Linked DNA regions of Homo sapiens: region 2 is linked to region 1. The links come from fine-mapping of genetic effects on gene expression. Tissue or cell type: whole blood. Region 1 holds a variant in brackets; the other region holds the start of a gene. All regions are shown on one strand. Distances are from middle to middle.

Region 1 (4,621 bases):
CATACAAAATACCTGCTAAATTTACTGACTTTTGGAAGTCAACATCTTCTAGAAATCCTGGATGGTCCTGGACATCATTGGAAATGAGTATTTTTGATAAATTATGACAAATAAAATGGGAACAATTAATATTCACATGTACTCACAGACCAGATAACTACAATTTGCTATTATCTAAGTCACCTTTAGTACTTGGACCATTTATATCCACATACGAAACAACAGAGATTATTAGCACATTCTCTACAGGAAATGAACCAAGAAATATGATTATATTAAACAAATTTACCAGCAAAACCAAATATGTACAAAATCAAGTTATTTTTCCAATGTGTCCATTGGAAATTCAGGATGATATAAACAACAATACATAATTTAAATCAATTGGTGGGAAACACTAGGAACCAAAATAAATATGAAGAAAGTCATAAAAATAAACCCAGGTATGTCAAATTACTTTTTCTCCACGATCTAGCCATCTAATGGATCATGGAATAAAGTTACATGGTCAGTCCAACATCCTATTTACCAAACCATAACAAGACTAGACTCCCACTTACCTATATTTGTAGCTAAAGACACTTCTTTTGCAAAATGCTCTGTTAAACTCTGTAACTCTGGACTATGCATAATTGACAGAGGATCCTGGAGTGACACACATTGCTTATGAACACACCATTGGAAACCACAGTGGACCAAAGGCATAACAAACTCTCCACCTAAATTATTAAAATCAAATTTATTGAAACACATTCTCATTAACTTATTAAAATTAATTTACAAACCAACACCTAGGAGAGTAAAATATTTTTCAAAATAGAACAATTTAAAGTCACATATGTCCAACCACAATGCATACAATTTGAGGGACAAGGATATGACAAAAAGGGACAAGGATATGACAAAAAGCTCATTTTACCAAATTTATCTCCACTAGATAAATATCACCTAAGAAAAGCGCTATGAATATTTGTAGCAATTGGAATTATTTCAATTATTGATTGAAATTATTATGTCTATTATTTCCACAGAGATAAAAGACATAATCTGCAAGTAACTGCCTTAGAAAATCTACAAATAACTGCCCTAGTCATTTCAGGAATACAAGAAGCAGAAATTCAGGAAGTTAAAACAGACCTATCTGATCTTTAACATAAACTTAACTTCTACATAGAAGGGCAATACCAAGCACTAGGTATGAAAAGAACATGAGAGATATATAGAAACTGACAAAGTAGGAAATTGTTGGCAACAAATGATGAAAAGCAAAATGAGTTTAGGAATTAAATTGTTTTGGAAAATGATTAGATGGCTTCCACTTTTGCTAAACCAATATTGTAATTGTTATCTAATTACAGGCTGTGGACTATGCTATAAACTGGGTTTGTTTTGAGGTTAATCTAAGTAATCTAAAAATAACAGTACTAAAAAGTAGAGAAAAGGATTTGTTTAGTTATCTGGCCTTTGTAAAGGTCTAAACACTAAACAACTAGACAGATCTAAACTAAATTTGAACTTACACAATTGTGAAACAATGTCAACCACGTAAGTTCAAATTTAGTTAAAATAATTTAGTTTATGTTGCAGTGTTCTTCTTTTTCAATTGTAATTAACTTTGTATTTATTCCAACATGTCAGTGACATAATTATGATAAAGCTTATGTAGAACCAAGAAAAAAGTAAAAATTACTTGGAGGTTGAAAATCTCCCCTTTGCTTCTAGATTTATGAATCAAGAAATTATTTTTGGGCAACCTCAAATGTAAACTTCCTCATAGATATATCAACTTTGACATGACCCATTATAATCTTTTCAAGATAGTTTATTTGCAGATAAATAATATGATGCTGTGAAGAGTATCAGACTTTTAGCTGGGTGTGGTGGCTCACACCTGTAATCCCAGCACTCTGAGAGTGTTGGAAGCCAGGAGTTTGAGACCAGCCTACCAATAGAGCAAGACTCTATCTCTATTGAAAAAACAAACAAAAAAGAGTACTGAACTTCTAGTTGAAGATTAATGAATCTTGACTATGGCAAAAAAAAAAAAGAGAAAGTAGAATGATACTTTTAGATTCTGATGAATTCACATGTCTATGCTTTGTACCCAAGTAGAGTCCTCTTAACCATGTCCTGAAAGGGGAGAGTGTGGCTTATTAATGCAGTATTATTAGGTTGATAAATTGGGTTGATGCTATCAGACTACAAAGGGTTGAAGTGTATCTGGGATCTAGAGATGCTCTCAGAGGGATTCAGGAGACTAAAACCATTTTTGTAATGATACTAAAAGCGTTTTTTTTTTATTCTCATTCTCTCACAAGTGTATAGTGGAGTTTCCAGAGGCCACAT[G/A]GTGTGTGATATTCCAATAGAGTGAATAAAGAAGGTATGAAAATCAGCTGTCTTCTATTAAGTCATACATTAATGAGTTTTATAAAAACGCAAAGTAGTGCCATTCTTCTCACTAAATTTTTGTTTTAGAAAATATAGTTGTATTTTCATAAAATGTTATTTGTATAACATATAATGTTTATTATTTTAAAAAATTATTAATACATAAATATTTTTTAAATTTCTGAGTTTTAGTTTTCAGTATGGTAAATATTGATATATAACCCATATTAAACAAAAGTTCCTTGGGGTCTTCAGTAATTTTTTTTTTGAGGTGGAGTCTCGCTCTGTCTCCCAGGCTGGAGTGAAGTGGTGCAATCTTGGCTCACTGCAACCTCTGCCTCCCAGGTTCAAGCGATTCTCCTGCCTCAGCCTCCCCCGTAGCTGGGACTACAGGCATGTGCCACCAAGCCCAAGTAATTTTTGTATTTTTAGTAGAGACGTGTTTCACCATGTTAGCCAGGATGGTCTTGATCTCTTAACCTTGTGATCCACCCGCCTTGGCCTCCCAAAGTGCTGAGATTACAGGCATGAGCCACCGCACCTGGCCTCAATAATTTTTAAGAGTATAAAGCAGTCATGAGACCCAGAAGTCTGACCACTGCCGTAAAGTTCCACTGATATTCCTCATTCAATGAGGAATCATCCACAGCATCTCTAATAGTTGGTCACTCAACCTAGGAACAAATAATTCCATTCTGTTTTTTTCTACTTTCAGATCTACAGTAATAATTAACCTTGTATTGTTTGATGCCAACTTTTGTGTTTTTACATGTAAATAGATGAATATGATCATTTATATACAATACGTGAATATAATAGGACTCTTCAGGTAGTAGTTAATCTCAATATTCTTGAACCAATATTATTAGTACTACTTTAAACGTTTTTTTAAAACTTTTATTTTAGCTTTGGGGGTACATGTAAAGGTTTGTTACATAGGTAAACACATGCCATGGGGGTTTGTTGTACATATTATTTCATCACCCAGGTTTAAGCTCAGTACCCAATAGTTATCTTTTCTGCTCCTCTCCCTCCTCCTACCCTCCCTGCTCAAGTAGATCCCATTGTCTGTTGTTTCCTTCTTTGTGTTCATAAGTTCTTATCACTTAGCTCTTGATATGGTTTGGCTGTGTCCCCACCCAAATCTCACGTTGAATTCCCATGTGCTGTGGGAGGGGCCCAGTGGGAGGTAATTGAATCCTGGAGTCAGGTCTTTCCTGTGCTATTTTCATGATAGTAAATAAGTCTCATGAAAGCTGATGGTTTTAAAAAGGGGAGTCCCTACACAAGCTCTTTTCTCATCTGCTGCCATGTAAGACGTGCCTTTCACCTTCTGCCATGATTGTGAAGCCTCCCCAGCCATATGGAACTGTAAGTCCATTAAAACTCTTTCTTTTGTAAATTGAGCAGTCTTGGATATGTCTTCATCAGCAGTGTGAAAATTGACTAATACAGCTCCCAGATACTTTCATTCTAAGTGAGTGCATGGATTTGGGAGGCAGCTTGTCAATTTGTCAGGCAATCTTAATCATCATGTCTTTATTCCATGCCACATAGAACTCTTGGAACCATCCTCTTTCTGGTCTTAGTGCTGTCATAAAAGTTTCATGACAGTCCTTCAAATTCTGAAGACAATATCATATCTCACCCAGTTGTTTATTCTGCAAACAAATCATTTCCTGTTGTTTTCACTGTTCTCCATCTGATATGATTTTTAATCTTCTCATTTGTCTGGATTTTCATGGTCCTGGCACACATAGCAAGAAGATAATTTCTTTGGGAAGGATCTTACTGGAGCCAAGGGCAGTGAGAATATCAGCTTTCTCAGTTTGTCATTCTATTTTTCATGCTATTGTTTCTTACTTAATTACTTGTCCCAAAAACCTTATTTCTTTTTATAGAGTTTCTCCAAGGATTAAGTCTCTGCCATTCTGTTTGTACAGTATTCGTCAAACCCCAACTGTCATTCAGACCTTGGGTTTATCCCCAAATTTCAGCCTATCACATTTTAAGTCTTCCCTCAAATCAAAGGTGGTAAAACTTTCTTCTATCTTCTCCCGTTCTTGGAATAAAGAATGTGAATATGACATTTTAAAGCAAGTAAGCCAGTAAAAATTTAATGTTATATTAAAAAAAGAAAGATGAAATAGTAATAATAATAATGGCCTACTTACTCAGTGCTTATAGAAAGGACAAAAGATAGAGTGAAGAGCAATCTCACTTCTTTTAAGGA
Region 2 (4,621 bases), 38 kb before region 1:
TTGAGTGCTCAAGTGAATAATCTGAAACCCTCTTTCATAAACTTTTACTCCTCAGCCTGGACAACATAGGGAAACCTGTCTCTACAAAAAATTAAAAACAAACTACCCGAGTGTGGTGGCACACACCTGTGGTCCCAGCTACTTGGGAGGCTGAGGTATGAGGACCACTTGAGCCCAAGAGGTTAAGGCTACAGTGAATCATGATCATGCCACTGCACTCCAGCCTGGGTGACACTGAGCCCCTGTCTCAAAAAAAAAAAAATAAACTTTTACTCCTTATTTACCCTAGAGTAGTGATTTTCAAATGATGGGTCACAAAACTAGCTTCTGGAGGTATGACAATAATTTTTGGAAAAATGGAATAGAAAAAAATATTGAAATGCAGCCTACATAGGTTAAGTACTGTTAAGTAATTTTTATTCCAGTTACATGTATATATCTGTGCGTTGCATCATGCTTAGAAAGTATTTGCTATTGCCAAGAAAGCATCCTTCTGCATCCATTCCAAGAGCATAACATGCAACAGATGGAAATTAGCTTGGTGTCATGGTTGTAATTCAATTACAACCTTAGAGACACCACTGGAGTTTTTGGAGGAAACAAATCACGTACCCTGATCATTCTGGCCAAGAAACACTCTCCCTGATGCAAATGACCTTTTTCTTACCTTATATTTACTAATTTTCAACAGCAGGTTTTAGGGTACATGTAAACTCTTCTGTCCTATTTCAAACATCTCACAGTTCACTCAGTTCTTTCTGTTGTTTTCTTCCCTTGTCTGTGTGTAAATATCCAACGCCCAGGCCCATATTCAAATTTTAAGAGAAAAACCTGGGACGTGGGCCTGCCAGATGGTTCACACCTGTAGCTTTGGGAGGCGAGGTGGGAGGAGCGCTTTGAGCCCAGGAATTGGAGATCACCCTAAGCAACAAGCGGAGACTGTCTCTGCGGGGAAGAAAAAAGATTAGCCAGGTGTGGTGGTGAGCGCCTGTAGTCCCAGCTACCCGCAGTGCTGAGGCAGGAGGATCACTTGAGCCCAGGAGTTCCAGGCTGCAATGAACCATGATTGTGCCACTGCACCCCAGCTTGGGCAACGAGACCCTGTCACAAACAAACAAGCAAACAACAAAAACAGAAACTGAGAAACCCAGGTTATGGCTGTGGAATATAATATGCAATACTTAGAAGGTTAAAAATTCTAGGTTTTGCCTCAGCTCCCATACCACCACCTTTGTTGCTCAATTTTCAGATAATCAGGCTCAGGCTATTATTTTTGGTTTTTCATATCATATTATCATTTTTCATATCCTATGATGTTTCATGTCCTATTGTCATTCTCATCCGGCTAGGCACTTCTCGGGGACGCTGTGTGGTGTTGAGGTTTTACAGGGAAAATGCTAACCTTGGCGCCTCCTGAATTATCAACTAGCTACGGGGTGCCCAGATTTTTCTCCCGAGTTCCAGACCCAGGGCACCCCGAGGCGGCGCCTGGCCGAGGAGCTCCGCACTGCGCCTTGTTAACAGCTGGGTCCGGGCAAACTCGCGCCACCTAATTCTCTGCCCTCTACCGGCTTGAGATGCTTATTCCTCAGGGAGGGCAAGAATCGAAACGATTGAGACCAACTATTTACAAGTGAGGCAACCGGGCTACAGGTGCCTCGAGGGAAAGGAGGCTGGGTCTGCGCTCCCACACCTTGCCGACGGCTCCACGTCCCTGTCTGCGCCCGAGGTCCACCGGTCTGTGAAGCCCACTTTCCCCGCCTCCCTCTCGCGTTGTGCCGCTTGGGGCGCCCGCTAGGACCCAAAATGCGGACTGGTGGGCCGCCCATCAAGGGTTGCCCGCGGTAGGGCGGGGGCTCCCGTGAGCTGCTCCCAAACCCCACTCGCAGGATGCTGCCCTGACGCCCAGGGCCAACCCGGGGAGCCAAGGCCCCCGGTCTCTGCAAGGCCGACCCCAGCCCGCTGGGGACCCTGCAAGCCCGCGCGTGGCTCCCAGCACGCCGGGCGTCCGCGGGGCGAGCTGCTCAGGGTCACTCGGGGTCCCTCGCCAATACAGGCCGCGCGGAGAGTGTGAGGCGAGCCCCGGGCCCGCGCCCCCACGAGCACCTACCTTCCAGGTACCCAACCCCAGGATGGGCATCTTGGCGCCGTTGTTGAGCAGGAGACGGCTTGCCATGGCTGCTGCGCTCCCCAGACCCCCGCCCAGTACGGTGCGGCCTTGGCCGCGGCGCGTACCTTTAAATAGCCCGTGAGGTCGGCAGAAAGGGCGCCTGCGGTTGGCGCGCCGCTGCGCGAAGGAGCCTTCTGATTGGTTGCGCTGGGGGTGCCGCGGCGGCCTTCCCCAAGGGTCGGCGGGGATGCTTCTTCCGCCTGGTCCTAGTGGCAGCGGATTCTTTCCGCCCCCAACGCTCGCCCGCGCCCCGCGTGGCAGAAAGGAGTTCCTCAGCTGCTGTATCTGGTGGGAAAGCGAATGCTTTAGCGAAAATAACAGGCATCCCATAAATACATAGACTAGAAATAAGTTTTGGTTTCATTAAGAGCCCAGAAGAATGCCTTTGTTGTCCAACCCCAGTTTGATGCTCTTTGGGAATCTGACGAATACCTTGTCCTTAATCTATGTGAATCATACTGACTACACATATAGTTTACCGCACTTTGTTCTTAGACAAAGGTGCATGCCAGAAAAATGGCTTGCAATCCTTTTGCAAAGCACCTTCACAAAATATGGGTTTGCCCAGACTTTTTGTAGCCTTCTAGATCTCTCTTTGCACCCCACTCTAGGTGTTAGCTGTGTCTGTGCATACTAGGTGTGGTTCAGCAAGCCTTCCACCAAAAGCCAGCATCCTTTGATGTTCTTGAGGTTAGAAAGCCTTGATGGGCTTGATCCAGAACTCTCAGAAGAATTTGGAAAGTAAGGCTGTCCATTCAGAATCAGTAAGACAAATTTCATCAGTCTTTGGAAAGTGAGACTCTATCAAAGCAGTAAGTTCCAGTACAGTAACTTATCAAAACTCTCTAGAGGAAGAAAAGTGAACAGACAGAAAACCACAGAAGAAAAAGTTGACTCTAATATTGTAGCTTCCAGTATTTCAAATTAGAAGGTACAAAATAGTAAATTGATCACCCTAATTGGCAGGTAGAAACACACATTTTTCCAAGATAGCCTAAGAAAAGTCACTTGAAGATCCTTGAAGACAATTTTGGTTTCTTTCCAACAACCTCTCTTCATGATACTCTACCTCACCCCAACTGCTCTTTCTGCTCCATCACCCTCCGATCTTTCCCCTAATTATGCAAGATTGGGAACTCCATCTGCCTGGTAGTGACTCAAGCACCAGGTCTCTCTAAACTCCATGCCGGTGATTTTCCATTTGGTGCTTTCTTTAAAAGTGCTCCCTCCTGGAAAAATTTATACAGAACAGACTAGCCCAGATATTTTTCCATGTAACTTTTGTAAAAATTGTTGCTATTGGGCAAATTCATTTGTCCCCAAGTAATAGAATTTGAACTTGAGCCTAAAGCTGGGAACTTGCTTTGTGTAAAACAGCAAGTTCCTTCCTCCATGAGAGTCCTCTTGACTTGGAGGTTGCTCTGCCAATTGAACCTCCTGGGTCCAAATCCAAAGAGCTAATCTCTTGTGAAAATGATACACCTTGAGTGGCCAGGTTGGTACACACAGAAGGGTCGTCTGTTAGGGACATGGACTCAATATCAGAGGCTTTGTTGTTGGTTTGATAATAATTGAGTATACAGCTTGATTGCATGAAGTTATAACTGTGTCTAAAGCTGGAGTGATACCTGTAGTCTCAGCTTCTCAGGAGGCTGAGGTGGGATGACTGCTTGAGCCCAGGAGTTAGAGACCAGCCTGGACAACATAGCAAGACCCTGTCTGTAAAATAAATAAATAAACCCAGAATATTTTGGCTGGGCCATGCAGACATGAAAAGTTGTATCAGTGGAATTTCTATAGCAACAATAGCACTCTAGTTGGGACATGCTATTGTGATAGCCCCCTAACATCCCCCATTGCCTCTGTAATCTTTGTAAAATGTACACATACCAAAATTTTTGATCTCAAGATTTTTGATCTCCCATCTTTTGATAAGTATACATATCAAAATTTTGTTTGAAAAAGGGAAAAAAACCTTCAATGGAATCCTCCTGAGAAACACTCTAGTAATTGGAATCTTAACATGCTCTGAACCAGTAATCTCCCATCATGGGAATTTTTCCTAAGGAAATAATTTAAAAGGAAAACACACACACACACACACACACACACACACACACACACACACACACACACTAGGTATAGGGCTGGGCTGGGACCAAGGTAAGACAAATGAGGTACACAGGTACAAATTTTCATGCCAGAAGGTAGGAGCTTTTTTACATTTATGTCCTTGGCACTTGCCTTCCCTTAGTCCCAGGCCTGCACACAGATATACACATATGCGTATGTATTTTTAAAATGCTGTATACTTAAAGTAAAACTGTAAATATCCAACAATAGCAAGAGATAAGGTGTAGCCATCAAAAGTAAAGATGACAAAGACACAGAGAAAAATGTATATGAGGTAATGTTAAGGTGAAAGTAGAAAACAAAGTCATATAGCTATGG

Evidence for each region. PIP is the estimated chance that this variant, and not a neighbour inherited with it, causes the effect.
Region 2: AKR1B1 starts here. The variant in region 1 is fine-mapped to the expression of AKR1B1 in whole blood (TOPMed, PIP above 0.99). The same link has a PIP of 0.9 or more in blood mononuclear cells.

Annotation. Positions count from the first base shown.
Region 1 is chr7:134,494,614-134,499,234 of GRCh38, forward strand. No RefSeq gene overlaps it. Among named protein-coding and RNA genes, the nearest start is that of AKR1B10, 31 kb to the right of the region's middle. The variant G/A (reference allele first, on the strand shown) is at 2,347.
Region 2 is chr7:134,456,887-134,461,507 of GRCh38, forward strand. It overlaps AKR1B1 (aldo-keto reductase family 1 member B), which reads right to left and starts at 2,214. Exons shown (of 10, transcript NM_001628.4): 1 at 2,111-2,214. The coding sequence starts at 2,176. RefSeq lists a silencer at 1,824-2,013.